4 linked regions of the Homo sapiens genome follow. The main gene of each other region encodes a partner of the protein of the gene in region 4 in a complex. Each region holds a gene or a part of one and is shown on either strand. Other genes may lie near its edges. The genes, in order: MED24, MED16, MED25 and MED4.

Region 1 (3,540 bases), on a different chromosome or scaffold from region 4:
AAAAGCACATCTCGTTTTCCCCTTGCCTCCTCCTTTTTTCCTTTCTTCTCTCATTTCTCCACCACCTTCCCCCCCGCCCTACCAAGTAGGGAGCTTTTGCTCTGGTGTAACCCATTCTAAGCACCCTAAATCCTATCTGGGTAAGGGGTAGTGAGAAGTCTGTGGCTCCATTGTGCAGGTGGGAAAAGTGGCTCTAAAGGTCATAGCAACTTTCCCAGAGCCACCCTGCATTCCAGGAACAGTCAGCACTCGGCCCGGGTCTGTATTCACTTCCGAAGCCTCTTTCCATGAGAAAATTCCTGGATATACACTTCTATCTGCCCAGCTACCAGGGGCCGGGAAGAGTCCTGTGGGGCAGCCCTTGGGCCTCTCCTGGAAGGAACAGTTTACTTTGGGAGGAGGCCAGGGCTGGGCGGGGACCCCCAAGCACTCAGCCTAGGGGGAAGTGATTGTGTTTATTTATGTGGCAGGTTGGCAGGGCCCAGGCCTGGGGGATGGGGGAAGTTGGAGAATAAAAGAAAATGTGAATATCTGGCTGGAATGGCCAGGGGGAGGAAAGTCCCTCCCCAGTCCCTATTTATAGGCTTTGTGTCCTGCAGGTGAGAGACCTGCCAGGAGCAGAGCAGGGGCCAGGTCACCCCGGGGTATACCGTCCCCCAGCGCAAAACTGGGTTAATGCCTCAGGGAGATTTCCGTAACCTAAGTCCAAGGGAAAGTCTGGCATGGGTGTTCCCTCCTCTCCCTCCCCACCCTACAGTGGCACCTGAGCCTCAGGTTCTCTCGGCCCTCCCCCAGGGTGGTGATCATGAACTCGATCCTGGAGCGCATGTGTGCCGACGTGCTGCAGCAGACAGCCACGCAGATCAAGTTTCCCTCCACCGGGGTGGACACAATGCCCTACTGGAACCTGCTGCCCCCCAAGCGGCCCATCAAAGAGGTGCTGACGGACATTTTTGCCAAGGTGCTGGAGAAGGGCTGGGTGGACAGCCGCTCCATCCACATCTTTGACACCCTGCTGCACATGGGCGGCGTCTACTGGTTCTGCAACAACCTGATTAAGGTACTTGGGCTGGAGTGGCTGTGGGCCGACATGGGTCCTGTCCCCTGGCTCCCCACACCTGGCCTGGTCTGCCAGGCTTCCCTGAGAGGCTGCCGTGAGCCAGGTGGCCTCCCCGGAATGCCTCGCCTCAGAGTTGCCTCCTTGGGGAGCTCTGGCCAGAGACTGGGATTCAGCCTGAGGGGCGGAGCAACATCTGGGGCCCCCTCTGCGGGCCTTACTGGACAGCCATGCTGGGGTGGCAGGGTGTAGGAGCCCCAGATCCCGGGCCCCTGGCTCCTGAACTGCCCCCTTTCCTGCGCACTAGGAGCTGCTGAAGGAGACGCGGAAGGAGCACACGCTGCGGGCAGTGGAGCTGCTCTACTCCATCTTCTGCCTGGACATGCAGCAAGTGACCCTGGTCCTGCTGGGCCACATCCTACCTGGCCTGCTCACTGACTCCTCCAAGTGGCACAGCCTCATGGACCCCCCGGGCACTGCTCTTGCCAAGTAAGATTCTCTTCAGAGCTTGCCCTGCTCCGGCCACCCAGGGTCAAGCACCCCTCGCCTGGTGCCACCCTGGGAGACTGGGCTTTGGGGAGCCCAGTCAGACACAGAAAGCTCCTGGGGCACCTCTCACTGTCCCCCTTTTTCTGGAACCCTTTGCCAGGCTGGCCGTGTGGTGTGCCCTCAGTTCCTACTCCTCCCACAAGGGACAGGCGTCCACCCGCCAGAAGAAGAGACACCGCGAAGACATTGAGGTAGGCCCCCCAGCTGCCCTCGCCGGCTTCACTTGTTCACCGGTTTGTTACAGCATTTCCTAAGGATTCCCCAGGCAAAGGGAAGCAGTTGTGGCCCCTGCCCTTGGGGCAGCTGTGCCTGGGCATGATTGGTCAGGAATCTGCATGGGTGATTTGTGTGGCCCCAGCTTGCCCATGGGCACAAGGGGCCTGTCAGATTGTGGGAGGGGTTGAGCAGAGAGGGGCTGAGGCCCTGCTAGCCATGCTGACCTCGCTCAAATCGGAGCTCAAGCTCTTTTCCCTGACAGCTGGAAACTGGGGGGTTTAGGGGTGTATAACAGTGACTTTCACTCCCTCTAGGATTATATCAGCCTCTTCCCCCTGGACGATGTGCAGCCTTCGAAGTTGATGCGACTGCTGAGCTCTAATGAGGACGATGCCAACATCCTTTCGAGCCCCAGTGAGTGTGTGGGCTGGCCGCGCGCCGCTCCTTTTCCTGGGAATTCACTCCCCGATGCTGCCACTCTGCCGCTGCCCCAGCTGCAGGCATCTTTGCAGCTGGTCAGAGAGGGTGTGGCAGGGACCTGCTGTTCTAGCCCCCAAGGGGGTGCTCTGTGTCCTGCCCCTGGAGAAGAGGTTGCTGTTCTCACTCCCTGAGGGTTGAAGCTCCTCTGCCCAGGTCCAGCCCAGCCCACAGTTGTTCCCCCACAGCCCTCCTGCCCCTCCCTTACCCCAGGGTTGAGGGGATGACAAGCTACCCAAGTGAGTGAGTTCACTGCCTCAGGCACAGCCTGTGCCATTGACTCACCAGCTCTGACCTTCCTTCCTTCCTTCCCCCAAAACATGCCCGGAGAGGCCCGGGCTGGGGCATGGGGCTACTCCCCACCTTCCTGCCTAAAGAGCACACCCCCCACCAACCACTTCCCTGGAGGTCATCCTTTTCACTGTCCCCTCCTCCCTGCCAGGCTTACTGCCAAGGGTTCCTTCTGTGGCATTTTTCCTGTTTCCAGAGATTTCTCCTGAGCCTGAACTTTTCTCTGAAGCCTTTTAGGAACTAGGGGACCAACTATACACTTGATCAGAAGAAAGATGCTAGGTTTGCCAGCTACAAGTGCTGTGACCTTTAGCTAGCGACTGAGCCAGCCCCCGTCTGGGTCTCCTCATCTGTAAATGGGGTGTTGTGAGGAGTAAGCAGCTTAGGAAGTACCAAGATCGGCCCCTGGCCCTGTGTGCTCACCACATGTTAGTTTTTCTCTCTCATTCCATTGGGATCTCTGTATCTGAGGTCCCTCTGTGCCCTTTTTTTGTTTTGTTTTTTGTTTGTTTGTTTGTTTGTTTGTTTGAGTTGGAGTCTCCCTCTGTTGCCCAGGCTGGAGTGCAGTCGCACGATCTCAGCTTACTGCAACCTCCGCCTCCTGGGTTTAAGCAATTTTCCTGTCTCAGCCTCCTGAGTCTCTGGGACTACAGGCGCCTGCCACAACGCCTGGCTAATTTTTGTATTTTTAGTAGAGACGGGGTTTCACCATATTGGTCAGGCTGGTCTCGAACTCCTGAACTCAGATGATCCACCCGCCTTGGCCTCCCAAAGTGCTGGGATTACAGGCGTGAGCCACCACGCCCAGCCTGTTTTTCTGAGACACGGTTTTGCTCTGTTGCTCAGGCTGGAGTGCAGTGGCACCATCTCGGCTCACTGCAGCCTTGTTCTCCTAGGCTCAAGCAGTCTGCCTCAGCCTCCCGAGGAGCTGGGACTACAGGCGTTGGCAC
Region 2 (4,638 bases), on a different chromosome or scaffold from region 4:
AGCCGTCCTCACCTGCTGGCCCAGCTGTTACCCGCCCGAGAGCCACGTCTCACACACATGCCACAGCCTTTCTCAGGTCTCACATCCCTGGCAGCTGGGGGTCACTGGGACAGTCCCCACCGCACCCATCTCTCCCCCATCTCTCCCCCTACCGCCCCACGTGCCCACCATGCCAGGCTTTGGTCCCCGCCATGCCCAGCTCTTCACGCACCGCCCCACGTGCCCACCGTGCCAGGCTTCGGTCCCCGCCATGCCCAGCTCTTCACCCACCACCCCACGTGCCCACCGTGCCAGGCTTCGGTCCCCGCCATGCCCAGCTCTTCACCCACCGCCCCACGTGCCCACCATGCCAGGCTTCGGTCCCCGCCATGCCCAGCTCTTCACGCACCGCCCCACGTGCCCACCATGCCAGGCTTCGGTTCCTACCATGCCCAGCTCTTCACCCACTGCCCCACATCCCCACTTAGCAGCTTAGCTTCTCCCTGCCTCAAGTCCCCCCTCATTTAGGAATGCTGACCGCAGCCGTCAGTTGGATGGAGGAGGGGATGTAAATCGTGCTGTGAGGGTACCCTGGCCACTAGCTGGGGGTGTGGTCGTCATGGCAGCTGCCTCCCCCGGCGCTGGGGCGTTGAGTTTCCTGTCTTTCCTATGAGAGGCTCAATTCCATGAGGGCCAGCCACCCCTGACCACTGTGTGCCCTCTGGGCGTCTCAGCCACTCTCTGGGCCTGTTTCCCCCCAGGGAATGCTGCTCACAGGACCCCTATACGGGTTTGCAGGAGGTCAAGGCTCTGTGACCGTGATGGCCCGTCCGGGGCAGAGACCTCATGATGCGGGTGGCACAGAGCAGCTGCGTGGTAGTCAGCTTCAGCCGAGTAACAAGCCAGCCCCAAACTGAGCAGCTCAGGCCAGCAGCCCTGCACTGTTTCTGTTTCTGTGGCTGCCTCAGCTGCGCTCTCCTGGTTCCCACGTGTCTGCGGTTAGCAGCCGAGGTGGCGTGGCCTGTCCACTGGCCGCACATGCTCCAGCAGGCCGGCTCCAGCTGCCCTCCGTGTCCCACATGCAGCCACAGCAGGACCCCCCACACGTGCTCTCTGGGCCACTGTTTTTGTTTTTTGTTTTTGAGCTAGGCTCTTGCTGTGTTGCCCAGGCTGGAGTGCAGTGGCGTGATCTTGGCTCACTGCAGCCTCATCTTCCTGGGCTCGAGCAATCCTACCTCAGCCTCCTGAGTAGCTGGGACTACAGGCGTGTGCAGGCGTGCATCACCACCACACACAGCTAATGTTTACTGTGTTTTTTTTGTAGAGAATGGGGTCTTGCTGTGTTGTCCAGGCTGGTCTTGAACTCCTGGACTCAAGCCATCCTCTGGCGTTGGCTTCCCAAAGTCTTGGGGTGGCAGATGTGAGCTGCTGTGCCCGGCCATGTCACATTTGCTAAGGCTTGGCCTGAGATTCCCAGAAGTCTCTGCCCTGTTGGGAGGAGCTGCGTCTTCACGCAGGGGCTGTCAGGCAGCGGATCTGTGGGTGCGACCATCCCGCATGGCTTTATTGGAATTGTAGATGAGGAGGGATGGGAATCCCGGCTGAGCTGGCTAAGGCCGAGCGAGTGTTAGGGTTTGCATGGCTGCAGGTCTGAGGTGGCGCCGTCTCCCCACTGTCTGCCCCATCGGGGGTGAGATGGTGCCGGCCCACAGGTTTCCATGAAATCCCAGGGCCCACCTTGGGTCACGTGCCCATCCTGGAACCAATGAGTGGCCGAGGCACGAAGCGCTCGGATTGGCCGGGCCTGGTCTTCTGGGCATGGGAGCAGGGCGGCATGAGACCTGGGAAGGGCCCTGGGCAGGTTGCACACCAGGCCATGCTGGACTCCTGCGGCTGTCTCAGCCTGTCTTTACTCCATTGCCTTCCTGTTTTCCTGCCCCTGATTTTTCAGTTGGCGACAAACAGCCCACAATTCTCAAATGGCGGATCCTATCGGCCACCAACGATCTGGACCGTGTGTCGGCCGTGGCGCTGCCCAAGCTGCCCATCTCGCTCACCAACACCGACCTCAAGGTGGCCAGCGACACACAGTTCTACCCTGGCCTCGGTACGGTGGAGCCAGCGGCAGCCACGCGGGGCCTCAGTTCACACCAGGGGAGTTGGGCCCTGAGCACAGGCCACGGGGTCGTGGGAGCTCACACCAGAGGACGTGGGCTCTGAGCACAGGCCATGGGGCTGTAGGAGCTCAGCCTTCTGGGTTCTGATGGGTTCCCAATTAGGAGGCAGATCTCATCTTTCGGGATCTGTGAGGCTGGCAGACAGATCCAGTGTTCTTTAATATGTAAAGAGTCATTGCAAATCAACAAGGGAGCCTGGGGAACTTGGTGGAACTCCTTCCTGGGTAGGCGGCATGTGTCCTCTCTGTGCTGCAGCAGCCATAATGTGGTCCTGAGCTCAAACCGTGGCATCCGTGCCCATGAGTGAGTCTGCACACTCTTCAGTGCCTACCCTATTTGCTCAGCTGTAAAATGTGGACAAGTCGGCCCTAGCTCAGGCCCTTTCTTCCCCCAGCTCCCGTTCTTCCCTGGTTCCCTGGAAAGAGCATTTATCAAAACCCGCTCGGGGCTCAGGGCTGTTCCTCAGAGCCTGCAGAGAGGTTGAGGGGATGCAGTTCCCTGCTCCAAAACCCTTGGTTTATGCTCCATTTTCCAGGCTCTATTTTTTTTTTTCTTTTTTTTTTTGAGTTGGAGTCTCATTCTGTTGCCCAGGCTGGAGTGCAGTGGTGTGATCTCGGCTCACTGCAACCTCCGCCTCCTGGGTTCAAGCGATTCTCCTTCCTGCCTCAGCCTCCCGAGTAGCTGGGACTACAGGCGCGTGCTGCCACGCCCGGCTAATTTTTTGTATTTTAGTAGAGACGGGGTTTCACCGGTGTTGCCCAGGCTGGTCTCGAACCCCTGAGCTCAGGCAATCTGCCCGCCTCAGCCTCCCAAAGTGCTAGGATTACAGGCGTGAGCCACCGCGCCCGGCTTTGCAGCCTCTCTACTGCAGGGACTCCTTTCATATTCTCTTTTCCATGAGCTTTGGGCTCTGGACCCCACCTCCCCCCGGCCCTCGTACAATGGCAGACCCCAGTGTGAGTGACAGCCCCAGCCCACCACCCTAAGATGCCTCTCTTTGGGACGCCAGGAGCCCCAACCCTTGGTCCCCCACCTGTAGTGCCCCCCTCCCCTGCGCTCCTTGAGGGGCGTGTCAGCCAGGACATGGGCCCAGCTGGGAGGGGCGGGGAGGGGCTGGGAGCAGTGTGGCCAAGGCTGCTGGCTCCTGCTCCCCTGGTGCTCAGGGACTGTGTAACTAAAGAAAGAGTGGCTGGGGGCACGGGCGCTGGATGCCGATTGGCGGGGGCTGACCCCCTGGATGGGCAGCCCCGGCTCTCCACACCCTGCAGAGCAGGAGGCCCCTCCCCCGGCGGGCGTGTCCTGGGCCCTGCCCATGTCTAAGCAGTGCCTGTGCCCCACAGGGCTGGCCCTGGCCTTCCACGACGGCAGCGTCCACATCGTGCACCGGCTCTCACTGCAGACCATGGCCGTCTTCTACAGCTCCGCGGCCCCGAGGCCTGTGGATGAGCCGGCCATGAAGCGCCCCCGCACCGCGGGCCCCGCCGTCCACTTAAAGGCTATGCAGCTATCGTGGACGTCACTGGCCCTGGTGGGGATTGACAGCCACGGGAAGGTGAGCTGCTGGGGCACGTGGGGCCGGGGCTGGTGGGCATTGACAACCAGGGGAAGGCGAGCTGCTGGGCATTGACAACCAGGGGAAGGTGAGCTGCTGGGGCACGTGGGGCTGGCCCTGGTGGGGATTGACAGCCAGGGGAAGGCGAGCTGCTGGGGCACGTGGGGCTGGGGCTGGTGGGCATTGACAACCAGGGGAAGGCGAGCTGCTGGGCATTGACAACCAGGGGAAGGCGAGCTGCTGGGGCACGTGGGGCTGGGGCTGGTGGGCATTGACAACCAGGGGAACGTGAGCTGCTGGGGCACGTGGGGCTGGGCTTGGGGGGCATTGACAACCACGGGAAGGTGAGCTGCTGGGCATTGACAACCAGGGGAAGGCGAGCTGCTGGGGCGTGGCCCTGGTAGGCATTGACAACCAGGGAAAGGCGAGCTGCTGGGGCACGTGGGGCTGGGGCTGGTGGGCATTGACAACCAGGGGAAGGCGAGCTGCTGGGGCACGTGGGGCTGGGGTTGGTGGGCATTGACAACCAGGGAAAGGTGAGCTGCTGGGGCATGTGCGGCTGGGGCTGGTGGGCATTGACAACCAGGGGAAGGTGAGCTGCTGGGGCACGTGGGGCTGGGCTTGGTGGGCATTGACAACCATGGGAAGGTGAGCTGCTGGGCATTGACAACCAGAGGAAGGCGAGCTGCTGGGGCATGTGGGGCTCGGCTTGGTGGGCATTGACAACCATGGGAAGGTGAGCTGCTGGGCATTGACAACCAGGGGAAGGCGAGCTGCTGGGGCACGTGGGGCTGGGGCTGGGGCTGGGGCTGGGGGGTATTGACAACCAGGGGAAGGCGAGCTGCTGGGGCACGTGGGGCTGGGGCTGGGGCTGGTGGGCATTGACAACCGGGGGAAGGTGAGCTGCTGGGACATGTGGGGCTGGGGCTG
Region 3 (4,638 bases), on a different chromosome or scaffold from region 4:
GCATGGAGTCAGTCACTCCAGGGTTGGAGTCAGCACAGGATCCTAGGCTTGGGGTCCCCAGCCCTTTCCCATTCCCTCCCAGTCCTCATGATTAAAGACAACAAATGTCGGCCGGGTGTGGTGGCTCACTCCTGCAATCCCAGCACTTTGGGAGGCTGAGGCAAGTGGATCATGAGGTCAGGAGATGGAGACCATCCTGGCTAACATGGTGAAATCCCGTCTCTACTAAAAATACAAAAAATTAGCCAGGTGTGGTGGCAGGCACCTGTAGTCCCAGCTACTCGGGAGACTGAGGCAGGAGAATGGCATGAACCCAGGAAGCGGAGCTTGCAGTGAACTGAGATCATGCCACTGCATTCCAGCCTGGGCGACAGAGCGAGACTCCATCTCAAAAAAAAAAAAAAACACAGACAGCAAATGTCCCCTGTCCTGTCTGGGACTGGTGCTGTGCTAGCACCAGGGATTGGGTAGGGAACTCAGCAGGGTCCCCGTCATCCCAAGGTGCATAGCCCAGGATAGAGTGGGGGACAGCATGGGAGCAGGCTCTTCAAGCATAGCCTGGGGATGGGGATGATGGCAACCCTGGGGGCTGACCGCTCTGCCCCTGCAGGTTCATGGGCGGGGGTGGTGAGAGCTGCAGCCTCATCGCGGAAGGACTCAGCACAGCCTTGCAGCTGTTTGATGACTTCAAGAAGATGCGCGAGCAGATGTGAGTGCCCCCTCCACCCAGGCCGGGCCGGTCTCTCTCTGCCTGGCCTGGAACCACTTTGCCTGTCGAGTGGTTCTACCTCCAGCCTCACCCTGTAGGGCATGGGCTCTGTGTCCCCAAGCACGCTGAGCCAGGAGGCTGCAGGTGTGTCCTTGGGGGACGCCTGGCCAGTGCCCGGTCTCAGCATCCCCATCAGGAAGCAGTGCCAACTCTGGGTGTCACTCCTGCCTGCCCTGCCTGCTGGGTGACGTAGAGCACATCCCAGAACCTCTTGGAGCCTCAGTGTTCTCAGCTGTAAAGTAGGGGCGTTGCTTCTGATTCCATGTGAGGCGGAATATGTGCATCTCCGCTGGTGCTGGGTCTGGGTTCCTTCTCAGGGCCTCTGTTGCTGCTGGCTCCATGTCTTCTCTCTTTCCTGGTAGTGGCCAGACGCACCGGGTCTGCCTCCTCATCTGCAACTCACCCCCATACTTGTTGCCTGCTGTTGAGAGCACCACGTACTCTGGATGCACAACTGAGAATCTTGTGCAGCAGATTGGGGAGGTGAGGACTCCAGGGTCTGAGGGACGAGGGTCTGGGGGCCCGGAGTCTTGGGTCTGAGGCAGGAGGCACTGAGGGCCTGGACTCCTGGGTCTGAGGGAGGAGGCACTGGGGGCCTGGACTCTTGGGTCTAAGCGGGGAGGCACTGGGGGCCTGGACTCAGACACAGAATAGTCACAGACTGGTGACCAGCTTTGCTTACTCTCTTTTCGAAACAGTCTGGCTCTGTTACCCAGGCTGGAGTGCAGTGGTGTGATCTTGGCCCACTGCAGCCTCTGCCTCCAGGGTTCAAGCAATTCTCATGTTTCAGCCTCCCGAGTAGCTGGGATTATAGACGCCCGCCACCACGCCCAGCTGATTTTTGTATCTTTAGTAGAGATGAGGTTTCACCATGTTGGCCAGACTGCTCTCAAACTCCTGGCCTCATGTGATCTGCCTGACTCGGTCTCACAAAATCCTGGGATTACAGACGTGAGCCTCCACACCTGGCCCACTTAGTCTTACTGACAAAACTAGAACCCAGAGTCTCCCGGGGCAGGTGATACCTGGTTTCAGGGTCTCCTGCCTCAAAGCCCAATGGGAATTGTGGTTGTAGGGCTGGTGCCGTCCAGCCACACAGCAGTTGTGGTAGGTTGGGGGCCGGCCCCAACACCCTTATGGAGGGGGCCCGTCATGACTGCTCGGCCCCTCTCCTACAGCGGGGGATCCACTTCTCCATTGTGTCTCCCCGGAAGCTGCCTGCGCTTCGGCTTCTGTTTGAGAAGGCAGCCCCCCCGGCCTTGCTGGAGCCGCTGCAGCCTCCGACAGATGTGAGCCAGGACCCGAGGCACATGGTGCTGGTTCGGGGACTCGTGCTGCCTGGTGAGGCCTGGGCACCGTGCGCGGGGATGGGGGCTCGACGTGTTTCCCCAGCTCCCTCTGACTTGGATTTTGGATTTCTCTCCTTTCTCTGCATCTTGAATCCCTTCTCTCTGGGGTTGGCCATCCCTCCTGCTCTCAGTTGGGGGTGGCTCAGCCCCAGGCCCCCTCCAGTCAAAGCAGCCAGTCCCCCTGCCTCCCGCCGCACCCTCAGGTGCCACTCTCTCAGCAGCCCCCCAGCAGCCTCTGCCCCCCGTCCCCCCGCAGTACCAGGTATGGATATTTCCGGGAAGGGACATGCTTCTGGGGACTTGCTGGAGCCCTGGCCCCTGGGGAGAAATCTAGTTGCATGTTGGAGCTTGTGGGATGATGGGAGTCCCATGGGACATTGGGAAGGTGGGACTCTTGGGGCCATGGAAGCTCATGTGCTGTGTGATGGGTGTTGTGAGCTAAGCTATCCCAGCTGGTGCCTCATGGGGCCATGGGTGGTGTGACCTCGTGGGATACCAGGACTGGGGGGCCATGGTCCTCACCAGTCCCTTCCCTTCTTCCCTTCTACCCACAGGTTCCCGGGAACCTGAGTGCAGCTCAGGTGGCCGCGCAGAATGCAGTGGAGGCTGCCAAGAACCAGAAGGCTGGGCTGGGCCCTCGCTGTGAGTCCTGGAGTGAGGATGAAGGGCGGGCAGGGGCCAGGCAGGCCTCTCTCCACACACTTGTTCCCCACTTCTTCCCTTGGTCTCTCCCACAGTCTCGCCCATCACCCCTCTCCAACAAGCTGCTCCCGGAGTGGGTCCCCCCTTCAGCCAGGCCCCAGCTCCCCAACTACCCCCAGGACCCCCTGGCGCCCCCAAGCCACCACCTGCTTCCCAGCCCAGTCTGGTCTCCACTGTGGCCCCTGGCTCCGGCCTGGCTCCCACGGCACAGCCCGGGGCACCGTCCATGGTAGGTGCCTGCACGCCTCCTGCCCCTGCTCCTTCCTCCTGCTGTCCACAGCTAGGACAGTTAGAGGATGAGTCATTTGCCTTCCAGGGGGATGTGGCTCTCGTGGTTCTGGGGCTTTGGGGGCTCGTGGTGTGTGTGCTGCAGATGCCTGAGATGAGGGTCTGGGGACAGAGTGGGGAGGCTCATGGCTCCAGGAGGGTCAGGGCTGTTCCGAGAAACCCAAGGAATCCCTGGGTCTGGGAGTCCAGGGCATCGCACAGCTTACGAGTCCTCGAATCCTGCAAGGTCCAAGCATTTGGGGTCCTGCGGCTGGCCAAGTGCTGTTCTGGGGATGGAGGGGCAGAAGAAGGGATCTTTCCTCCTTCCTGGTTTGCCCTCACAGGATGGCCCCCGGAGGCTCCCGGCCTTCCCCATTCTCATGGCCCTCCTTCCTCCCCTCTGGCAGGCAGGCACTGTGGCCCCAGGAGGGGTGAGCGGCCCTTCCCCAGCCCAGCTGGGAGCCCCAGCCCTCGGTGGGCAGCAGTCAGTCTCCAATAAGCTTCTGGCCTGGAGCGGGGTCCTGGAGTGGCAAGAGGTGAGGGGCCTGAGGGTCCATTGGGCACTTGGGACTCCTGGGGCCGTGGGGCTGGGCATGTAGGACTCATGGGGCCAGATGCGTGGGGTCTGCAGTGCTGGGTTTGGAGGCATTCGTTGCGCTGGACCTGTGGGATGCGGGGCGAGGCCAGGAGCCCCATGGAGTGGTGGGACTTGCGGTACAGAGGAGAGTCCCCATGCAAAGAACCCAGAAAAGCCCAGGATTTGGGGCCCAGAGAAGAGCCCAGGCGATGTATCATCTGGGGCACAGTGGATGGTGGGATTTAGGGGCCGGGCACGTAGCTGTAACATTTGAGGAACTGAAGGCTTGCTGGTCTGGAGGAGGGGCCTGGGGCTCATGGGACTTAAACTGGGGAACATCCTGAGCTTTGGGGCTACCAGGGTAGGACATGAGGGCTCAAGGGGACTGAGGCTTATGGCCCTTTTTACTGACATGCTCTTTTTTCCCCCTCAGAAACCCAAACCTGCCTCAGTGGATGCCAACACCAAGCTGACGCGGTCACTGCCCTGCCAGGTCTACGTGAATCATGGCGAGAACCTGTAGGTGACAGTCAGGGGCGGGGTGTGGTGGGGCTGGGGCTGGCCCCCTCCTCACACCTCTCCTGGCATCGCCCCCAGGAAGACGGAGCAGTGGCCCCAGAAGCTGATCATGCAGCTCATCCCCCAGCAGCTGCTGGTGAGTGGCGGTGGAGGGCCAGCCCTGCTGCCGGGCAGTCCTCACCCTGCTGTCTCTTTCCTGTTCCCTGCCCCACCCCCACTCCCTGCCTCATGTCCCCGCCTCACTTGCCCACACCAGCATGCCAGCCGACTTCTGTGTCTCCCGCAGACCACCCTGGGCCCTTTGTTCCGGAACTCAAGGATGGTCCAGTTCCATTTCACCAACAAGGACCTGGAGTCTCTCAAAGGCCTCTACCGCATCATGGGCAACGGCTTCGTGAGTCCAGGGCATGGGGGGCCGAGGGGTGTTGACTCTTGTCCTGCTTTCTGCTGACCTT
Region 4 (4,638 bases):
TCCTATGTAATTTTCATTGAAACTGTTACTATTAGAGAGGGATGTGCCCATTTGAAAATTTTCTAGCCACCATTTTATTTGGATATTTATAATTTTATATAGAATTTTAGAATTAGAAAGGATCTTAACGATGTTCAGTTCAACCTCCTGTGAGAATAAGCTCCAGGGTGGACGGATGAGGTAGAGGTTAATGGTGAGTGGAACCAGAACCTAGGTCTTCTGACTTTAGTTGAATAATTTTTTTCTACTGAACAATAAGATCTAAAGAGAATATTTTTTACTCATGGGTAGTATACAAATTAATTCAACCTGTGTAAACTTCTTGAAAGTTGTCAGGGAACTACTGTGTACTACTTGCTTTAATAATACAGCTTTTATAGAAATGGAAACCTAGCTTTCTCCTACGATGTGGGAGGAATGAGGATTAGAAGTCTGTTAAATAAATAGAATATACTTTACTTTTTACAGAAAAAGCTTTCTGTTGTTATTTAAAATACTCTTAATATTTGGCAGTTTGTAGCTCAGTCTTTTGTCTATTGTATTAGAAGAATTCCTATAAAATGAGAAGAACTTCATGTCAAAAGGATCTTGAAGAGGCATACCTGTACTTTTTAGTCTTCAACAAATCTTTTTAAATAGTTTTAAAATTGATTCTGAATTTTGATAGATATTTTCTTTCTGAAGTAGTATTCTCTACTTAGCACAGTAAAGGATATTTAGACTAGACTTGCATCTTAATTCTGTACTGGGGTAGTGATCGTAATAACTAGCCTTTGCTGAACTCTTCCTGTATGTACTTAAAGTGCAATATATCATGAATCCTCACAATAGCTTCATGTAATGGCTACTATTAATATTATATTCCTTTTCCTATTAAGAACACAGGCTCAGAGAGGCTGGTAACTTTCCCTGTGTCACACAGCTAGCAGATGGAGGACTAGAGATATGAACCACCAGACTTTCTATTTTATGTGTTTTAGCCTTCATGGTTTTTGCCGTATCTGCATACCACTTGTTTGTTTACTGTTTTATGAAATCACTGTATTTTTTTTTTTTTCCTGAGACGAAGTCTTGCTCTGTCACCCAGGCTGGAGTGCAGTGGCGTGATCTGGGTTCACAGCAACCTCCGCCTCCTGGGTTCAAGCAATTCTTCTGCCTCAGCCTCCTGAGTAGCTGGGATTACAGGCATGTGCCACCACCCCCGGCTAATTTTTATATTTTTAGTAGAGACGAAGTTTCACCATGTTGGTTAGGCTGGTCTCAAACTCCTGACCTTGTGATCCGCCTACCTCGGCCTCCCAAAGTGCTGGGATTACAGGCATGAGCCACTGCGCCTGGCCGAAATCACCGTATTTTTAAGATCATCTTCATTGTAAACAATACTGTGCATAAACTCAGAGTTTCAGTGTCTCAGTTTTTTCTAATATATATTAGCACAAATGTGTAAGTGTAAAAGTTTTCTTAAGTTCTTGGTGCCACCTAAAATCATCTCAAATACCAAATTTTGGGAGAACTTTCATTATTTATATATACATATATATATTTGCGATGGAGTTTCGCTCTTGTTGCCCCGGCTGGAGTGCAATGGCGCGATCTCAGCTCACCGCAGCCTCTGCCTCCGGGTTCAAGCGATTCTCCTTCCTCAGCCTCCTGAGTACCTGGGATTATAGGCATGCACCACCACGCCCAGCTAATTTTGTATTTTCAGTAGAGATGGGGTTTCTCCATGTTGGTCAGGCTGGTCTCGAACTTTTGACCTCTGGTGATTCGCCTGCCTCGGCCTCCCAAAGTGCTAGGATTACAGGCGTGAGCCACCGCGCCTGGCCTATATTGTATTTTTAAGGATAAACTTTTTTTTTTTTTTGAGACAGTGTCTTACTCTGTCACCCAGGCTAGAGTGCAGTGGCGTGATCTTGGCTCACTGCAACCTCCACCTCCCAGGCTCATGCAATTCTCCTGCCTCAGCCTGCTGAGTAACTGGGATTTTAGGCGCCACCACACCCAACTAATTTTTGTATTTTTAGTAGAGATGGGGTTTCACCATGTTGGCCAGGCCAGTCTAGAACTCGTGACCTCAAGTGATCTGCCCGCATCAGCCTCCCAAAGTTCTGGGATTACAGGCATGAGTCACTGTGCCCAGCCATAAGGATAAACTTTAAAATCGTGTCTTCCCTAGGAAATCACTAAACTTGCTCATGTTGCCATATTGCTAGTTCTGAAAGGCTAGTTTTATTTTGTTTTGTATGAAAGAATATCTGAAAAAGTAGAAAAGTTTGATATTAATGTTTCCCAAAATAATCATAGGTAGGCTCTTTTTATTCTTAACAAGAATTAGGAATAAAATTTTGAAGGTGTTGAAATTTATAGCCTAGCCAATTCAGTTACGGATTCTTTGTTTCATTGGAATGCAGCCTTTCAGTAGTCTATTGTCTGATTTAATTGACTGTTATCTGACAGGTCCTGGAGTTGTTAATTCACCGAGATGGGGAATTTCAAGAACTAATGAAATTGGCACTTAATCAGGGAAAAATTCATCATGAAATGCAAGTTTTAGAAAAAGAAGTAGAGAAGAGAGACAGTGATATTCAGCAGCTACAAAAACAGCTAAAGGAAGCAGAACAAATACTGGTAAGTTGACAGAGGTTGGTTCTTAAGGTTAAAAAGGATGTTGTTTAATCTGTTTCTGAAAAATCTGTTATCAATATTTTGAAGAGCAGAAAACTAGACTTTCCAAGTCTAAAGGTGATATCTTGTCACTCACCATTGCCAGTGGTTAAATGAAAGGCTATTGTCATTCTCTTTTTTACTTACTGTTTTCAAATAGTCTGCATTACTTGTGAGCCACATTTTCGATGCTTAAAGATTTTACAGTATTGAATTATAGAAATGGAAAGTTTTACTTTTATCCTGGTCTGATATAAATTTTAATTATCAGTAGTCTAAATCTCTCTTTTTTTTTTTTTGGTCTCTGATCCTTAGCATAAAAATCAGGGAAATTTTTCATTTTTTATATATTTTGAAATCAATAAAAATATATACACATTTTATAAATTGATTAAAATTGACATTAATTTAGTCATTCATCCTCATCTAGGTAGGATTTGGACATAGATCAAGGATCCTAGTTTTCCCTTTGCTGTTCTTGGCTACTATTTCAAAGAGGCAACTTATTTGCTATTATTTGCCCAGTTACTTCACTAAATACTAACTAATATAACATGATAGTATTGCAGAAATAGCTGAGCTTGATTCTCATGTCGACCAGACATTGCTGGCATCCTTACCACTGATTAATCTCTTAACAAATGTATTAAAATGAGCTCCAGTAACTAGAAGCCTGGGCAGTTCAGGGTAAATTAATCACCTCTACTAAGGAAACAACTCACTAGTAAATAGTTTTTAAAAATATATTAAAATCAGGCCGGGCATGGTGGCTAATGCCTGTAATCCCAGGGCTTTGGGAGGCCAACGCAGGTGGATCGCGAGGTCAGTCTGTGATTGAGACCAGTCTCAGTTCGAGACCAGTCTGGCCAACATAGTGAAACCCTGTCTCTATTACAAATACAAAAAATTAGCCAGGTGTGGTGGTGTGTGCCTGTAATTCCAGCTACTCAGGAGACTGAGGCAGGAGAATCGCGTGAACCTGGGAGGCATAGGTTGCAGTGAGCTGAGATTGCGCTATTGTATTCCAGCCCAGGCAACAGTGCAAGACTCTCAAAAAAAAAAAAAAAAAAAAAAATTAGCTGGGCACAGTGGCTCACACTTGTAATCCCAGCACTTTGGGAAGCCAAAGTGGGCAGATCACCTGAGGTCGGGAGTACAAGACTAGCCTAGTCAACATGGTGAAATCCATCTCTACTAAAAATACAAAAAAATTTAGCTGGGCATGGTGATTCACGCCTGTAATCTCAGGTACTTGGGAGGCTGAGGCAGGAGAATCTCTTGAACCCGGGAGGCAGAGGTTGCAATGAACTGGGATCACCCCACTGCACTCCAGCCTGGGCGACAGAGGGAGACTCTGTCTCAAAATATATTATTTATATGTTTGTATATATTATATATATATTAAAATCTGTAAATATGTATATAAAAATCCTTATGTATGTAATACTTGCTTATCAAACAAAATTCAGAAAATACAGAAAAATGGAAAGAAGAGGGAAAAAATTGTCTTTAGTTCAGCTGCGGAAAGAATGCCACTATTCATAGTTTGGTCTATTTCCTTTGAGTCTCAGGTGTATTAATTTTTTAGGTAATTGTAGTTAGCAGGATACTAACAGACTTTCAATTACTGTTTATTGAAACTTAAGCATTTTTCATATAATTGTATCCACTTTGTTTGATTTTCCCACTTTGTGTTATAAATAATTAAAGACAGTGAACACAGGACCATAAAACTGAATTTCATGACTTAAATAGTAGTAACTAACATTGATTGAGCACTTAGGCACCAGGCCCTGTGCCTTGCATTTTATATGCATTACTTCCATCTTCCTAACAGTTTATATCAAGTCAGTGTCGTCATTTAGAGGAAGAAACCAATACTTTAATAACTAACTTGCCCATGGAGGCTAAAAAGTAGATTGAATTTAAACCTTGATCTCTCTGACTCCATACTCTTTTTTTTTTTTTTTTTTT

What was found.
Region 1: MED4 (region 4) and MED24 share a complex: the UniProt entries of both Homo sapiens proteins name them as parts of the mediator complex.
Region 2: MED4 (region 4) and MED16 share a complex: the UniProt entries of both Homo sapiens proteins name them as parts of the mediator complex.
Region 3: MED4 (region 4) and MED25 share a complex: the UniProt entries of both Homo sapiens proteins name them as parts of the mediator complex.

What each region holds. Positions count from the first base shown.
Region 1 is NC_000017.11:40,020,651-40,024,190, reverse strand, and holds part of MED24 (mediator of RNA polymerase II transcription subunit 24), read left to right. Parts: intron 1-795; coding exon 796-1,060; intron 1,061-1,364; coding exon 1,365-1,546; intron 1,547-1,706; coding exon 1,707-1,797; intron 1,798-2,136; coding exon 2,137-2,236; intron 2,237-3,540. UniProt on the Homo sapiens protein: Component of the Mediator complex, a coactivator involved in the regulated transcription of nearly all RNA polymerase II-dependent genes.
Region 2 is NC_000019.10:879,007-883,644, reverse strand, and holds part of MED16 (mediator of RNA polymerase II transcription subunit 16), read left to right. Parts: intron 1-1,930; coding exon 1,931-2,086; intron 2,087-3,496; coding exon 3,497-3,708; intron 3,709-4,638. UniProt on the Homo sapiens protein: Component of the Mediator complex, a coactivator involved in the regulated transcription of nearly all RNA polymerase II-dependent genes.
Region 3 is NC_000019.10:49,827,839-49,832,476, forward strand, and holds part of MED25 (mediator of RNA polymerase II transcription subunit 25), read left to right. Parts: intron 1-610; coding exon 611-709; intron 710-1,131; coding exon 1,132-1,252; intron 1,253-1,947; coding exon 1,948-2,110; intron 2,111-2,249; coding exon 2,250-2,380; intron 2,381-2,672; coding exon 2,673-2,760; intron 2,761-2,855; coding exon 2,856-3,049; intron 3,050-3,494; coding exon 3,495-3,623; intron 3,624-4,097; coding exon 4,098-4,183; exon of another isoform or gene 4,184-4,261; coding exon 4,262-4,319; intron 4,320-4,469; coding exon 4,470-4,577; intron 4,578-4,638. UniProt on the Homo sapiens protein: Component of the Mediator complex, a coactivator involved in the regulated transcription of nearly all RNA polymerase II-dependent genes.
Region 4 is NC_000013.11:48,084,272-48,088,909, reverse strand, and holds part of MED4 (mediator of RNA polymerase II transcription subunit 4), read left to right. Parts: intron 1-2,457; coding exon 2,458-2,628; intron 2,629-4,638. UniProt on the Homo sapiens protein: Component of the Mediator complex, a coactivator involved in the regulated transcription of nearly all RNA polymerase II-dependent genes.